4 separate regions of the Homo sapiens genome follow, and all the other regions are reported to be linked to region 1. The links are microRNA targets in miRTarBase. Many come from high-throughput screens and were not tested one by one. Region 1 holds a microRNA gene; each other region holds the end of a gene's coding sequence.

Region 1 (4,150 bases):
TTTGTTTACAAGATTTAAAATATCAGACACCCTAAAATTTAACTGGGAGTGATTTTATCAAATAATGTATCTCACACACATTTTAAGGTAATCAGGAACCAGTTTGTAGCTTCCTGCTTCGCATGCTAGCTAATCACTTTTCTTCTAATGGTAAATAAGGCCCTTTTCTTAATACATTGTACTACGTTTTATAAAACTAAAAGTTAAAACTGCATTTATGGAATTCAGTAGAAATGTGGACATCATAAAACCTATGTGCGTGAGTAGACCTCAATATTCCTTTTGAGACTGCTCCATCTGAATACTCATCTTACAAAAATCTAGTAATAAACTGAATCGTCAAATGGCTTATTTCACTTTTTAAAAAGACCCTTCTCCTATAATATATACACGTTTTGTCCCAATTACGAAAACATTTGCCACCCAATAGAAACTATTTCCTGAAATCAAAAATGAAACTAAAAACATATTAAAAGCCAAAATATTTCATCATTTAACAATGTGATTTAATAGCATTTCATGACCTACAGTCAGGCAGTAATTTAATATTTTGGACAAATGACTGTTTCTTAGTATAATTACAACAACTAATACTAAATAATACTAACTTCCAAAAAGAAAAGAAAAAAAAGGATTGTAAAAAAGACACATTCCACATGTTACACGGTAAGGTACTTAAAAGAAATTCCTGAATCTAGGTCGCATGTCCATATTTCCCCCAACCTCAACAAAAAAAAAAAAAAAAAAAAAAAAAAAAAGCCTATTCCCAAGGGTCATAGGGACATAATGGATTCATTCTCATTACAAGAAAACAAAATACTGAAAATGATTGGTACCATTAAGAAAAAAATACTCTAAAGTAACATGGTCCTACATCTGCCTCTAACTTCATTCGTCTCTAGTTTACGAAGATGTGAATTTTAAACTGCTCCTTTAAAAGCAGGCTGACAAAGCAAACCTTTTTAAAATTAATTACGTGGGTTTATTTCCATGATTCTTCTCTATAATGTTTTTCCTCGTGTGAATCAAAAACAAGTTGAAATCACAAGTTTTCTATTAAGAATAGAAAAATCTATTATCCTTAAAAGCAAAACTCCAATAACTAAAGATCTGAAAGCAGTGGACAGCAGTGTTCAGCCTAGGATTCACAAGATTATTTGTTAAATTCAGCCCTTCCTTCACTCTGACAAGTCTCTAAGGTATGATTATTGTTAAAATACCTCTTCCTAAAATAAATGAGTTACATAAAAATATACATACAACGACTGTTGTTCCTCTCTAACAGATTAGGATTTTTTAAACTTTCATAGCATTAACATGAAAGAAAAATTATTTGGAAAAAAAGACACCCAGCACAACTTGCTTAGAATATAGTTTCCCTAATTCATCGTGTAAGCAGTTCAAACAAGGCTCAAATTACCTAATCTAACAAAACAATGAAGAAAAAAAAAAGATTATGGGGCATTTCTGTATTCTCCACATCAAAAGCAAATATGAAATGATTCTTAGTATTTCACAGGAATATCTCATTTTTCCCCTTTTAATTATTGTTATCTGCACAAATATGTGGTTTCCTCATTTCGTTTTTTAAATATGTCAATTCTAACCAAAACTCCTCATCCACAAATATCTTTGAACAGTCAGAACTGATAAATCACAAAAAAATGAAGCTTAAATCTTGTTTATCAGGTGAATTACACATCACCAAAATATATTGCTGCCTATCAAAATCTTAAAAAAATTTTAAGGTTTTATTAAGCTGCGTGTGCTGACAGAATTCAAATTTTTCCATAGTTGAATTTGTAAAGGGAAGACTTTTATAAAGGCTTTACAAATCCAAAAATTGGTAAAATTCGTGGTTTACTTATTTTTCAATGGCCTTATCCTCAGCCTCCAATTAAAGTCTATGATATATGTAATGTGCATATTCTAAGACTATCATCAAAGATCTGAATTTTGTAAATGCCCAATACTGGACACCAGCGAACTGTTTTTCTGTATTTGATCCTCTTATTAATAACTATGATTCATAATAGTTTCAGCTTTAAATACTGAACCTTACATTTGCTTGTAATAGAGCTCAGTTATTATTTGTGGCAAGAATTTTTGTGACTGTACTGCTCAGCACTTCTATTTACATCAGCAGTGCTAAATGCCCAATGGTGAGAGGGGAGCCAATCAGATGGCAGATTAGATGTCAACTCAGAGGCAGCTGTCTGGAGACTATTACAGCCAGTTTACCTCCACAATTCAAATTCCAAACCTTGCAAAGGAGATCAAGTCAGTCTTTAGGCTCAGCCTACTAGCAAGAAACAGCAAGAGTGCAGGACACTTCCTAACAGCGCTGTAGGACTCGGGTGACAGCAAAATAAAGAAAATCCAAATAAATACGATCCCAAAAGATCAATTTTCACTGGTCTGCTATCTTACTGGATTTGCTGAATAAAATGCATGCCTAATCCATGATCAAAATAAGTTCAATTGATCCGGAACGTGCTCCTTTCACATAGCCTGCCTGTTGAAGGTGACTCCCTGCAAGCAGCCCGTAAGCCCAATAATGGATTTCCCTGGCTATTCTAAGGAACGAATCGATGTATTTTACAATATTGCACCTCCATGTCGTTGTAAATTTTGTTATTATTCCTACCAGCAAACGTTCGAGCTCGAAGCCCGCACCGAGTGTCTCTGAATGGCTCTCCCTAAGTAGGAAAAACCCACTCGCTTGTCACAAAGCTAACCTATTTTCCCTGCCTGGACCTCGGAAGCCAAGAGGGAACGTGCTGTGGCTAAAGGTGTGAGAAAGTTCCTCATTCTTTCCCCCGTTAAAGCACATTGTGGGCGCTCCCAGAACCGATCGGGTGGCTCTTCGCCCCAGCCGTCCTGGCCGGGAGAGCCTATTTGTTACAAAAGCACCCGAACGGTCCCCGCCGCCCCAAACGGCGACCGCGCGGGTGGCGCCTCGGGATCTCGCTTCGCGTTCCCGGGCCTGGGGGAGGGGGGGGACGCGGGTGCGGGCCGGCGGGGTAGAAGCCACCCGGCCCGGCCCGGCCCGGCGAAGCCCTCCCAGGCCTGGACAGCGCGCCGGCCCCCGGGGCGCCCCGACCGCGGCGGGAGGCGGCCGCCCGTCAAGATGGCTTTGGGCGCCGCGCCCCCGCCGCCCCCGCGGGAAGACGGGGAAAAGTACGCGGCAAAGAAAGAAACTCAGGCTCGCGGCGCGGCGAGGCCGCCGGGCGGAAGCAGGCCCGGCTGGCGCGAGGGTTACCTGGGATCTGCCCATGGTCGGTCCGGGGGTGCCGGGGCTCATCGCCGGGTGACTCCTTTGTTGCGCGGCCGCCCAGGCCGGGCTGGCAGCGGCGTACTGGGCGCCCATGTCCTTGCCCAAGCCCATGCCCGCGGCCGCCTGCTGGCCGCCCGCCGCCGCCCCCGCCGCCGCCGCCTGGGACTGGGGCTGCGACGGCGGCGGCGGCGGCGCGCTGGGGCTGCTGTACTCGGGGTAGCTGCCGCCGTAGCTCCGCATCATGGGGCTGGGCGAGGTGAGCAGCTGATTGAGGGTCGGGGTGGCCCCCGACGGGTGCTGGTTCTGGCCGGCGAAGCGCTGGAAGCCCCCCGCCGCCGAGCCGGCGGCCGCCTTGCTGAGGCTCGCGGCCCCGCCGCCCCCGGGGCCCATCATCATGCCGCCGCCCTGCTGCCGGGGGGAGCTCAGCACCCCGTACCCCGCGGACGAGCCCCCATAGCCGCCGCCGCCGCCGCCTCCTGCTGCTGCCGCCGCCGCCGCGGCCGCCGCCGCCACAGCTCCCGCTCCTGCTCCTCCTGCTCCTGCTCCTCCTCCTCCTCCTCCTCCTCCGCTGCCTCCTCCTCCTCCGCCGCCGCCGCCGCCGCCGCCGCCCGCGCCGGGCCGGCTGTAGCCCGGATAATGGTTGCACTGGCTGTTGGGGTACCCTTCGTGGGAGTTCTGCAGGGGGTCCATGCTGCCGGGGGCCCCGGCGGCGGCGGCGGAGGCGGAGTGCATCATCCCCATCCCGGGGCTTTGTTGTCCGCCATGTTGATCAAAGCAAGGCCCAGCGCGGCCGCCGGGGCCGCCGCTCGCAGGGGCAGCGCTGCCATAGTAATTATTAAACTCCGGGACGGCCGCCGGGCCGCCGCCGCCCCC
Region 2 (4,000 bases), not on the chromosome of region 1:
TCCTCCCCCACCTTTCACCAGAGAAGAGGACGTTGTCACAGATAAAGAGCCAGGCTCACCAGCTCCTGACGCATGCATCATGACCATGAGACACAACTGGACACCAGGTAGGCCTTGGGGCTACGCATGGGCAGGCGGGGTAGGGTGAGGTCTATGAACAGAATGGAGCAATGGGCTAACCCGGAGCCTTCACTCCAAGGCAAACCACCCAGCGCACCTGGTGCTGTTGCTTTAAGAACCTGGGCAGATATTGTAGCTCTGGCTCCAGTCTAAAGCTTCTCTGTACTCTGTTCAATAAAGGGCTAAGGGGTGGGTGCTGAGGGGTCCCTCTTCCCGCTCTGATTCCCTGGCTAGAACCCAGACATCTCTGGGCTGGAGTTACATCCTTACCCGGGCAGCCCACTCTGTCTCCAGAGCCGCTGACCTGTAACTGTCCTTTCCTCAGACCTCAGCCCTTTGTGGGTCCTGCTCCTGTGTGCCCACGTCGTCACTCTCCTGGTCAGAGCCACACCTGTCTCGCAGACCACCACAGCTGCCACTGCCTCAGTTAGAAGCACAAAGGACCCCTGCCCCTCCCAGCCCCCAGTGTTCCCAGCAGCTAAGCAGTGTCCAGCATTGGAAGTGACCTGGCCAGAGGTGGAAGTGCCACTGAGTAAGAAGCACAGTGGTGGAGGGTGGGCTATGGGCACAGAGGTTCCCAGGGTCGGGTTGACTCCTGAGCGCCAGTCCCCTTCTGCCCATGTACCACCAGCTGAGCCAGCTGGGCTGAGCACGCACCATTCTCCCTCCCCAACCCAGTGTCATGGGTGCAGGCTTGGCGCAGCTCCCAAGATGCTCCCTATCAAATAGGACAGAGAACTCAAGACATAAGTAATGGTCACAGGACCTCCCAGAGCCTTGGTTGCAGTGGACCCCAAGGCCAGCCCCTCCACCCAGAGCCTGCTGGCCTCTGGCCATCTCAGAGGAGCAGCAGCCATCCAGCACTGCCTTTGTCACCTGGGCTCCCAAGTCACCGAGGCTGGGCACTAGAAAAGGTCATCCTGAGGAGACAGGTTCAGAAGAGGATTCATCACGTGAACCAAGGACCATTCCTCACATTCCCCGTGTTTAGGGCTAGGGCCTCTCGGAGACAACTGCACTTCTGTAACGGACGTTCCCACCTAGGTGGTGTGCAGAGCAGTTCTCTAGGTTCCAGATGCATGGGGACTGGGGGGAGCTGGCAGGGAGGGCACAGCAGAGCAGGGTAGGGGAAGGGCCTGCTCTTCTGAAGAGCTAACTGCTGCCTGTGTCCCTAGATGGAACGCTGAGCTTATCCTGTGTGGCCTGCAGCCGCTTCCCCAACTTCAGCATCCTCTACTGGCTGGGCAATGGTTCCTTCATTGAGCACCTCCCAGGCCGACTGTGGGAGGGGAGCACCAGGTGAGGGTCGCAGCAGCCAGGTGGGTGGGAAGGAGGCCTTCTGCGGCCTTCTCATGACCTTTCCTTCCCTTCCGCTCCAGCCGGGAACGTGGGAGCACAGGTACGCAGCTGTGCAAGGCCTTGGTGCTGGAGCAGCTGACCCCTGCCCTGCACAGCACCAACTTCTCCTGTGTGCTCGTGGACCCTGAACAGGTTGTCCAGCGTCACGTCGTCCTGGCCCAGCTCTGGGTGAGGAGCCCAAGGAGAGGCCTCCAGGAACAGGAGGAGCTCTGCTTCCATATGTGGGGAGGAAAGGGTGGGCTCTGCCAGAGCAGCCTGTGAACTAATGCCCAGCATTCCTCAAGGTCAGCCAGACAAAAAGGAACTTAGGTCTTGGGCAGAGGAGGTGTAGCCTGGGGCAAAGTGATGAGATGTCCCTCCTTTCCTTGGCCTGATCCTTGTCTGCCTTCACTTCCCTAGGCTGGGCTGAGGGCAACCTTGCCCCCCACCCAAGAAGCCCTGCCCTCCAGCCACAGCAGTCCACAGCAGCAGGGTTAAGACTCAGCACAGGGCCAGCAGCAGCACAACCTTGACCAGAGCTTGGGTCCTACCTGTCTACCTGGAGTGAACAGTCCCTGACTGCCTGTAGGCTGCGTGGATGCGCAACACACCCCCTCCTTCTCTGCTTTGGGTCCCTTCTCTCACCAAATTCAAACTCCATTCCCACCTACCTAGAAAATCACAGCCTCCTTATAATGCCTCCTCCTCCTGCCATTCTCTCTCCACCTATCCATTAGCCTTCCTAACGTCCTACTCCTCACACTGCTCTACTGCTCAGAAACCACCAAGACTGTTGATGCCTTAGCCTTGCACTCCAGGGCCCTACCTGCATTTCCCACATGACTTTCTGGAAGCCTCCCAACTATTCTTGCTTTTCCCAGACAGCTCCCACTCCCATGTCTCTGCTCATTTAGTCCCGTCTTCCTCACCGCCCCAGCAGGGGAACGCTCAAGCCTGGTTGAAATGCTGCCTCTTCAGTGAAGTCATCCTCTTTCAGCTCTGGCCGCATTCTGCAGACTTCCTATCTTCGTGCTGTATGTTTTTTTTTTCCCCCTTCACTCTAATGGACTGTTCCAGGGAAGGGATGGGGGCAGCAGCTGCTTCGGATCCACACTGTATCTGTGTCATCCCCACATGGGTCCTCATAAAGGATTATTCAATGGAGGCATCCTGACATCTGTTCATTTAGGCTTCAGTTCCACTCCCAGGAACTTTGCCTGTCCCACGAGGGAGTATGGGAGAGAGGGACTGCCACACAGAAGCTGAAGACAACACCTGCTTCAGGGGAACACAGGCGCTTGAAAAAGAAAAGAGAGAACAGCCCATAATGCTCCCCGGGAGCAGAGGCCACTAATGGAGAGTGGGAAGAGCCTGGAAAGATGTGGCCTCAGGAAAAGGGATGAGAGAAAGGAGGTGGTATGGAAGACTCAGCAGGAACAAGGTAGGCTTCAAAGAGCCTATATTCCTCTTTTTCCCACACCGATCAAGTCAACTCAGTACTCACGGGAGAAAAATAGACTTTATTTACAAGTAATAACATTTAGAAAAGATCCATCCCCGGCCCTTAAAAACCTTCCCATCACTCCAAATCCCACCCCAGTGCAAGTCTGGGGAAGGTAGGGTGTGAGCTGCTGCTGAAGGCTGTCCCCCAACCCCACTCCTGAGACATAGGGCCCATCCGTCCTGGGAAAGAGCATCCTCTGGCAGGTGCTCCCACCAGGTCAGACCCAGTCCTGGACTTCAAGAGTGAGGGCCCCTGCTGGGCCCAGCCACCAGGACAGCAGGAACCAGGGCCTACTCCTCTTATGGTCCCTTCTAGATCCAGAGGCTAAGAGGAAGACTGGCCAGGCCCAAGGACCCAGCCATCAAAACCAGCCTCAAATCTGGTTGTGATGGAGAAGTGACTTTGCTTTAAGAAAAAAGGAGGCAAGGTAGGGAGAGCGCCCACACTGTCCATGCTCCAGGCCCCCTGGGCCAGCTCCGAGAAGGCGCCAGTGAAGGACCAGGGACCAGGCCAGGGTGCGGGCAGGCATCACTGTCTCTAGGGGTTTGGCTACTGTTGGCCTGGGAGCTGAGAGAAGGCACTGAGAGGGACAGTAGGCGGAGGACCAGGTGAGGTCAGCATCGGGGACACAGGTGGGGCCACTCACTGGTACTGGCCCTTTAGTGCTTTGCCTGAAAGAGACACAGTCACATGGCCAGATGAGAACTTGCGATACTAGCCTGCACCCACTGGCTGGGAAGATCTCTTCCTGCTCCCACGCCCCTGTCTGGATCCCCTCCCTTGTGAGCCCCAGGGTTATCAGTTGCTGGCTGTGCCTGAGCAGCTCTGGGTGCTCTCCATGAGAATGGGGCCATCTGTCTTCTCTCCTTGGAGAGGAGCTACCAGGACAGGGACACCTCTTACCCCACACCCTCCAGCAGCCTGGCGTGGCCCCATCTTGGATGCTACTTGGTGGGGCGGTCTGGGGGGTGCCCATGCTCTCATCGGGTTTCCCTCCCCCATCCTGCCAGTGCCTCTACCTTGCCCTTGGCTCGAGGG
Region 3 (4,000 bases), not on the chromosome of region 1:
ACATTTTTCATGTCCTAGCTGACAACCCAAACTATCTTAGTACCCTTCAATATTGCTTTGCAATTGTGGACACAATGGATTCCATTGAAAGATAAATATTATTTGACAAATGATTCATAATTCCTTGTCTAATAGTCAATGCATTTAACAGGATAATGTATTATGTATAAAGTATAGCACCAGTAGTTGAATTCCTGTGAAATGTTAACTATTTTAACTCAAAATTTACATACGTTTCAAAATGTTTGGGATATCATTCATTGATTTTTAAGAAGATGGTACTTTCTGGTAAGCAGCAGCTCAGAGTAGAAAGAGCACTGGACCTGGAGTCAGATGCAATGCAAGTTGTTTTTTCTAAACACTCTCTAATATCCTTTCCAGATCTAACATTCTATTATCTTTTACTACTGAATCTTGAGAGTTTGATTGAGGTAATTTTCAAGTGGTTTAAAAGTTATTGTCTTTTTCATTTTGTTCCTTTTCTTTTTAAAGGTTAGTTTTGAAAATTGAATTTGTTAAGAAAATGGGTTGAGAGGAGGCAGTTTCATTGTATGTTTGTTTGTTTTTGTATTTTCCATTAACCTACTATAGAAGATCCTATATCTTCTAGAACTTGTTAGTAGTGGTTGGCCTCCCTTTACTGTGTCAATAAGACTTTGAAGGTGTCTGGGAAGGAGATTCCAAAGAGGAACAGCAATTCTTTCTGCCACAAGAGAAAAAACACTGTTAGGGACTAGATTGGTATAGTATGTTTACATGACTGGCTTCAGTTCCCAAGATTAAATAGCTTAAAATTTCTTAAGCGAGTTCCCTTAACCCAATGTTGCTTTTGTTCTCATCTTTCCTTCTCACCAACCCTACATGTGTTTACATCTCCACATCAATGTCTGACCAATAGAAAATCATGTCTAAAATGTTCAAAATTGATCTCTCCAAACCTGCTTCTCTCTTATATTCCCAGTCTTGATCAACAATGTCACCATCTTACCGGTTCTAGCCAAGCTCAAACCTTTGGAGTCATTCTCCAAACTCCTCCTTCCTTATTCCCCATTCCACAGTCTTGTCCTTCTCCAATCACCCTTCACATAGTGGTTGCCAAGTGCCCTTTCTAAATTGCAAGCCGGGTGCGGTGGCTCACGCCTGTAATCCCAGCACTGTGGGAGGCTGAGGCAGGCGGATCACTTGAGGTCAGGAGTTCGAGACCAGCCTGGCCAACATGGTGAAACCCTGTCTCCGCCAAAAATACAAAAGTTAGCTGGGCATGGTGGTGTGTGCCTGTAATCCCAGCTACTCAGGAGGCTGAGGCTGGAGAATCACTTGAATCCGGGAGGTGGAGGTTGCAGTGAGCCGAGATCACACCACTGCACTCCAGCCTGGGTGACAACAGCGAAACTCCATCTCAAAAATAAACAAATAAATAATAAAGTAAAATAAAATAAAACACAAATGTGATCACAGAGCCTCCCTGATTAAAATGCTTTAATTACTCATTTTCACCTATTGGATAAAACTCAAAGTCCTCTTTCCATCCCTGAATACCTCTCTAGCTGGATCTCTTGCCATCCCTGCCATTCCTCTGAGCCCTTTTCATTCCAGTTACATAAACTGCTCACAGTTACCCAGACACACCATGGTCTCTTCATGACTGTGGCTTTGCATGTGAAATTTCCTCTGCTACTTTCTTAGCTCAAGATATTTTTCCTCATATTCCCATAGCTTTCCACATACTAGTTTTTTAACTCTCATTAAACTATATCGTATAACTTCTCCACTTGCTTGTCTTCACTACCAGACAGTCAGTTCCCTGTTTTGGGAGAAAGGAAACATTGTAGAGGAGATTCAGACTTTGGATCCTCCTAGGTGGCATTTAAACTTGCTTCGGACCCTGAGACACTATACTATTCGCTGATGCTTGCTTTTTTTTTCTCCTTGTGCCAGCCTTCCCCCTGGTGGAGGTGTTAAGAAGCAGTTGAGTGATCAGGTGACCAAAGATAAGACAAAGTGACCTGGCTGATCCACATCCTGGATAAGAATCTGCCTCATGTCATTTTTAAAGTAAATGCTAAACTGGCTAATGGGCCTTGGCTTTTGCCTGGCCTGGCAAGGAACGTTCTGTCTTGTCATGTATTCATTGACAGATTATGATTTCAATTTCCAGAGCTGTAGCTGCTGGTCTATGTAACCACCCCTGATGGTCTCAAAAAACATCATGCTACTGTCAAACAAATAGCCCAAGAAGAATTAGCTGGTGGGAATCTTCTTCCATGTTGTCTCCTCTGCCTGAAGCTGAGAAAAACCTGTTTGCAGGAATGTTTGCCTTTAGACGATTACACCAGAGAGCAAGGAATCAAACACCAATCATATCCATATGCTAAGTGTTCTCCCCAGTTGCAGTGAGCCCCACCTCTTTAAAAAGTCACAAGGACGGTCTTCATCTCTATCCCAGAACAATATCCTGTTAGCACTGCTTTTTTCCCAGTTGAAAATAACCTAGTCTTTGAATAAGCACTTAGTTGTCTGTGGGAGGCAGAAGTTTCTTAGGCACCAGGATATAGAGGTCTTTAGGTATAGCGGTCTTGGTTGTCTAGGTTGGACCGAGTGGTGATTCCCAGGGAAGGACCTTGCCAGGCAGGTTTTTTTTTTCTTCAGAGACAGGATCTCACTCTGTCACCCAGGCTGGAATGCAGTGCAGCTCACTGCAGCCTTGACCTCCTGGGCTCAAGTGATCCTCCTGCCTTAATCTCCTGAATAGGTGGGACTACAGATGCATGCCACCACACCCGGCTTAGGCAGATTTTTTTTAAACATGTGTTAGGTTATTAGCCTGGTTGGGAGGAATCTGACCTCTAAAACCAACAGAATTTTAGAAAACATGATGAATTTATAATCATAATAGAAATTCTCCTTGATGGCTATTGCGTGGCTATTGTAAATTTTATCAGATACTATGTTTACGCTACAGGGAGATTACCAGCAGCAAGAACAGGCTTTAGTTTTAAGTGGAGGGAAAGGAAATTAATATACTCTGTTTGTCATCAGGAGACACTACCTTTAAAAAATCGAACAGCTCCCACAATGTCATTTTATACACATGTCATAGGCAAGGAAAGATGATCGGCTGTCTTAGATGTCCATCTGGCTGTGTCCTAATTGAAGAAAAAGAATTCAGGTGCTACCAGAGATACCATGAGATAAAACAGAAACAGAACTGGTAAGAATGGCCCCCTGAAGTTCTTAAGTTTCTATGTTCAGGGTAAAGATTACCCTGCCCACAAAACGATCATTGATGACATCATTTATGACGCCTTTGCCCTTCAGTTGGCACTGCACAGGCACTGCTTGGTTCTTCACCACGTCTGTAAAGTGCATTGCCACCAAGGGGGATGTGTAGTTAACCTGCAGGTAGAAGAAAAATGAATTCTAAGTGTGGGGAGGTGGTAGGAGGGAAGTGATCAGATAATCACTGCAGGATGACAACCCTCACAAAGAGAACTGAGTAAATCCCATGATGCCAATTTGCAAATGGCCAAAGCAACAGACATACTCTCCTTGCAGTGGGAAAGTGTGGGAAAATCATACATTTCTCTAACAAGTCACTGTCAGATATCTGATTGTCCTCTGGGAAAAACCAATTCTGATTCAGCATGATATGATTTTTCTGGAAATCAGACCATGAATTAAACCAAAACTAGTGTCTATCGAGTCCCTGTGTTGGGGACTCACCCCAGCGCTTCAAATGGGAGAAACAGAAGCGTGATTATTAGGGCATGTTTAAGCACATTGGTAGTAATTTATCTGCTCCTGACCCTGCCACTAACTTAGCTGTATGGTCTTGGGCAAGTCACTTTCTGTCTCTGAACCCCAATTTTCCCATTCGTAAACTTAAAAGGTTAAATTAGGCCATATATGAGATTCTTTCAGATATGGAAAGGAGTGTGGTTGTGATAAGAATTGGTAAAGGGAGCTCCTGGTTATGGCCAGCAGCTATTTACCCCTCTAC
Region 4 (4,000 bases), not on the chromosome of region 1:
TCGGTGCGCGAGCTGAACCGGCATCTGCGCGGGCTCTCCGCCGAGGAGGTGACACGGCTCAAGCAGCGGCGCCGCACACTCAAAAACCGTGGCTACGCCGCCAGCTGCCGCGTGAAGCGCGTGTGCCAGAAGGAGGAGCTGCAGAAGCAGAAGTCGGAGCTGGAGCGCGAGGTGGACAAGCTGGCGCGCGAGAACGCCGCCATGCGCCTGGAGCTCGACGCGCTGCGCGGCAAGTGCGAGGCGCTGCAGGGCTTCGCGCGCTCCGTGGCCGCCGCCCGCGGGCCCGCCACGCTCGTGGCGCCGGCCAGCGTCATCACCATCGTCAAGTCCACCCCGGGCTCGGGGTCTGGCCCCGCCCACGGCCCGGACCCCGCCCACGGCCCGGCCTCCTGCTCCTAGTGCCCGCCCCCGCCATGCCTCAGCCACGCCCCTCCGGCCTCAGCTCCCTCCCCAAAGTGCCTGAGCGCCGCCTCTGTGCCCAGGTCCCATTTCTCTGCAGCACTGGCCCCTTGGTGCACACACATTCCCTTCGTGGGCCCTGTCTTCCTCTTGCAGCCCCCCAAACTGGGACCGAATGACCCTGGGAAGGGGAACTTGGGTAGGTTGGGGATGGGGCAGAGGTCTGGATCTGGGATCGCCCTTGGCTGAAAGTTTAGCCTTTTTAGATTGAGAGATACAGAGCCGGCTTAGAGAACAGCTGTTGGGGGAGAAGAGGGCACCCCTCATCTTGGAAACTGCTCTTATTGTGCCAATATGCCCTCCAAACCCTCCCAGGATTCAAAGCTAGGTTTGGCTGTCTGTGACTTACGGGACCGTCCTGCTGAGAAATTGCACTGAAGAGATGCCCCCACCTCTGGTTGGGCCTGGGGGTGCCTGGCCTTCCGAAACTAAAAGAGTGGGTGGGAAGACTAGTGAAACCCAGTTCACGGATGGGGAAACAGGCCTGAGGTCACATTTCACTTAGTGGTTGTGTTGGGACCAAAACCTGGGTGTCCTCACTGCTGCCCTGAGTCCAGCCATGGTTTTCAGGGGGACAGTGGACAGGGACTCAGAAATGTGGTGGGAGGGCCTCCCTGGCTTGGGAGACCGCTCTCTGCAAGGGAGGGGGAGAGAAGCAGAGGGAGAGAGAAGGTGACACGGATGGAAGAGTGGGAAGGAGCTGGCCTGGCTCAGCCCTAGGCTGTCCCTGCAGCCAGGGTGTCCGGGGGCTGGCCAGTCAGAGAAAGGGGGCCATGGACTGCTGTGGCAAATAGGGAGACAAGGAGACAGACCCTGCAGTCCTACTACAGTCTGGAGTGGGGTCCTAAGAAGAAGGGTCCCACCTCAACCCCTGTCAGTGTCCACTGTGGGGTGGGGGCTGACCCCTGCCTTTGATTGTCATTCTCCTGGGAAGCCCAGTCTCAGTCCCTCCCCCAACACTGTCCACACTGCCCCTCCCCACTGTTTATTTATTGCACGGATCTAAGTTATTCTCCCCAGCCAGAGCCCGAGCTCCTGCTCCCTGGGAAAAGTGGCGTATGGCCCTGAGCTGGGCTTTATATTTTATATCTGCAAATAAATCACATTTTATCTTATATTTAGGGAAAGCCGGAGAGCAACAACAAAAAATGTTTAAGCCGGGCGCGGTGGCTCACATCTGTAATCCCAGCACTTTGGGAGTCCAAGGAGGGGGATCGCTTGAGTCCAGGAGTTTGAGACCAGCCTGGACAACATGGTGAAACCCCATCTCTACAAAAAATACAAAAATTAGCCATGCATGGTGGCTCATGCCTGTAGTCCCAGCTACTTGGGAGGCTGAGGCAGGAGGATCACTTAAGCCCAGAAGGCAGAGGTTGTAGTGAGCTGAGATCGCACCACTGCACTCCAGCCTGGGCAACATAGCAAAATCCTGTCTCAAAAAAAAAGTTAAAAAATATTGCCCGGCTCCTAGAATTTATTTATTTCCTGACTTACAGCAAGCGAGTTATCGTCTTCTGTATTTTGTAGACTTTCTAAATAAAGTCAAATTCTTTCTTTTTCCACAGAGAATAAATGTGTATCCTGGACTATGTTTTTTGGCGAGGGGTGTCTAAAATGGGGTTCTGCTTTCAACCCCTTAGGGCTTCTGGTGGCGGGGAGGGCTAGTGCACATCACCAGCTATTGCACAGGGTATGAGGTGGAGGGGAGATGGCGACAGAGACCAGTGATGCTGAAACTTCGATGCTTCCTCTTGGTTGCTTAGAGCACAGGAGCTCCTGGGAAGACAAAGCCATGGGCACAATGAAATTTAGGACTGGATTCTGGCGGAGCATGGTGGCTCACACCTGTAATCCCAGCACTTTGGGAGGCTGAAGCAAGAGGATCATCTGAGACTAGGAGTCCAAGAGCAACCCGGGCAACATAGTGACACCCCATCTCTACAAAAAATAAAAAATAATTAGCCACATGTGGTGGTACACATGCCTATTGTTCCAGCTACTGAAGAGGCTGAGGTGGGAGGATCACTTGAGGCCAGGAGTTTGAGACCAGGCTGGGCAACATAGCAAGACCCCCATCTCTACAAGAAATTTAAAAGTAAGAAAACAGGCCGGGCGCAGTGGCTCACACCTGTAATCCCAGCACTTTGGGAGGCTGAGGCGGGTGGATCATTTGAGGTCAGGAGTTCAAGACCAGCCTGACCAACATGGTGAAACCCCGTCTCTACTAAAAATACAAAAAACAACAACAACAAAAAAAAAACATGGCCCGGGTGCGGTGGCTCACGCCTGTAATCCCAGCACTTTGGGAGGCTGAGGCAGGCGGATCACGAGGTCAGGAGATCGAGACCATCCTGGCTAACACGGTGAAACCCCGTCTCTACTAAAAATACAAAAAACAACAACAACAAAAAAAAAACATGGCCCGGGTGCGGTGGCTCATGCCTGTAATCCCAGCACTTTGGGAGGCTGAGGCAGGCAGATCACGAGGTCAGGAGATCGAGACCATCCTGGCTAACACGGTGAAACCCCGTCTCTACTAAAAATACAAAAAAAATTAGCCGGGCATGGTGGCGGGCGCCTGTAGTCCCAGCTACTCGGGAGGCTGAGGCAGGAGAATGGTGTGAAGCCGGGAGGCGGAGCTTGCAGTGAGCTGAGATCGCGCCACTGGACTCCAGCCTGGGCGACAGAGTGAGACTCCGTCTCAAAAAAAAAAAGAAAAACAAAACAAAAAACAGAAAAACATAGCTGAGTGTGGTGGCGCATGTCTGTAGTCCTGGCTACTCAGGAGGTTGAGACAAGAGAGAATCGCTTAAACCCGGGAAGCAGAGGTTGCAGTAAGCTGAGATCGCGCCACTGCACTCCAGCCTGGGTGACAGAGCAAGACTCCATCTCAAAAAAAAAAAAAAAAAGAAAAGAAAAGAAAAGAAAACAATTAGCCAGTCATGGTGGTGTGGTTGAGCCCAGGAGTTTGAGGCTGCAGTGAGCTATGATTGCACCACTGCACAATCTAGGTGACACAGACCCTGTCTCAAAAGAAGAAGAAATTTAGGGTTAAATTCCCTGGGCATCCCTTTAGTGAACAGACAGTCCCACCCAGAGAGGAAAAAACCCAGATTTCAGAGTAATTTTTCCAGCACTTTCACATTGAGATCTGATTTTCTACAGCCAAGTGGAAACTATCTTCCCCATGTTTCGGAATGCCCAGGGAGGCAGGGAGAGTGGCTTTCCCAGCCCCCACCTGCAGGCCTAAACCATAACCCTGTGTCTTGTCCTAGGCCTCAAACTCACTAATTTCAACCCAATCTGCCAGCCCTTCTGGGGCACCCTGAAGAAGGAGTGGAGTATACTGTGGTCTGTGGGTCACGGCAATTGGGGTTTGAATCTAGGTGTCTGTTCTTAGCTGTGGGATCTTTGGTACTTATTTGGTTTCTTACAGTCTCAGTTTACCATCTGTAAAATGAAGATGCTATGGGGCATTACGTGCGAAAAACCCTGGAGACCTGTGGGGCTGCAGGTTTTAACACTCCGAACACACATTTAC

The links. Region 1 holds the annotated microRNA hsa-miR-4466 (GGGUGCGGGCCGGCGGGG, at 3,007-3,024, shown strand). A microRNA usually pairs through its seed, bases 2 to 8, with sites in the 3' UTR of a target mRNA and lowers its output. Matches are read on the target gene's strand: a 7mer-m8 pairs with bases 2 to 8, a 7mer-A1 pairs with bases 2 to 7 and ends in A, and an 8mer does both.
Region 2: the mRNA of NUMA1 is a reported target of hsa-miR-4466. Seed matches in the 3' UTR shown: 7mer-m8 at 3,477-3,483.
Region 3: miRTarBase lists ATP1B4 as a target of hsa-miR-4466. Seed matches in the 3' UTR shown: 7mer-m8 at 1,124-1,130.
Region 4: the mRNA of MAFF is a reported target of hsa-miR-4466. Seed matches in the 3' UTR shown: 7mer-A1 at 1,850-1,856.

The regions. Positions count from the first base shown.
Region 1 is chr6:156,778,584-156,782,733 of GRCh38, reverse strand. It overlaps MIR4466 (microRNA 4466), which reads left to right and starts at 3,003; the gene lies at 3,003-3,056. ARID1B (AT-rich interaction domain 1B) reads right to left here. Exons shown (of 20, transcript NM_001374828.1): 1 at 3,263-4,150. RefSeq lists silencers at 2,873-3,042, 3,073-3,762, 3,833-3,882, 4,103-4,150 and an enhancer at 3,604-4,139.
Region 2 is chr11:71,999,906-72,003,905 of GRCh38, forward strand. It overlaps NUMA1 (nuclear mitotic apparatus protein 1), which reads right to left. Exons shown (of 27, transcript NM_006185.4): 26 at 3,982-4,000; 27 at 2,959-3,633. The coding sequence ends at 3,622. It overlaps IL18BP (interleukin 18 binding protein), which reads left to right. Exons shown (of 6, transcript NM_001039660.2): 2 at 22-107; 3 at 446-652; 4 at 1,296-1,419; 5 at 1,500-1,647; 6 at 1,879-2,899. The coding sequence starts at 80. The coding sequence ends at 1,956. Among named protein-coding and RNA genes, the nearest start is that of IL18BP, 3.0 kb to the left of the region's middle.
Region 3 is chrX:120,378,869-120,382,868 of GRCh38, reverse strand. ATP1B4 (ATPase Na+/K+ transporting family member beta 4) reads right to left here. Exons shown (of 8, transcript NM_001142447.3): 8 at 1-3,396. The coding sequence ends at 3,235. Among named protein-coding and RNA genes, the nearest start is that of ATP1B4, 19 kb to the right of the region's middle.
Region 4 is chr22:38,214,480-38,218,479 of GRCh38, forward strand. MAFF (MAF bZIP transcription factor F) reads left to right here. Exons shown (of 3, transcript NM_012323.4): 3 at 1-2,028. The coding sequence ends at 399. It also overlaps a transcript of TMEM184B not described here. Among named protein-coding and RNA genes, the nearest start is that of SNORA92, 8.2 kb to the right of the region's middle. RefSeq lists a silencer at 124-493 and an enhancer at 3,727-4,000.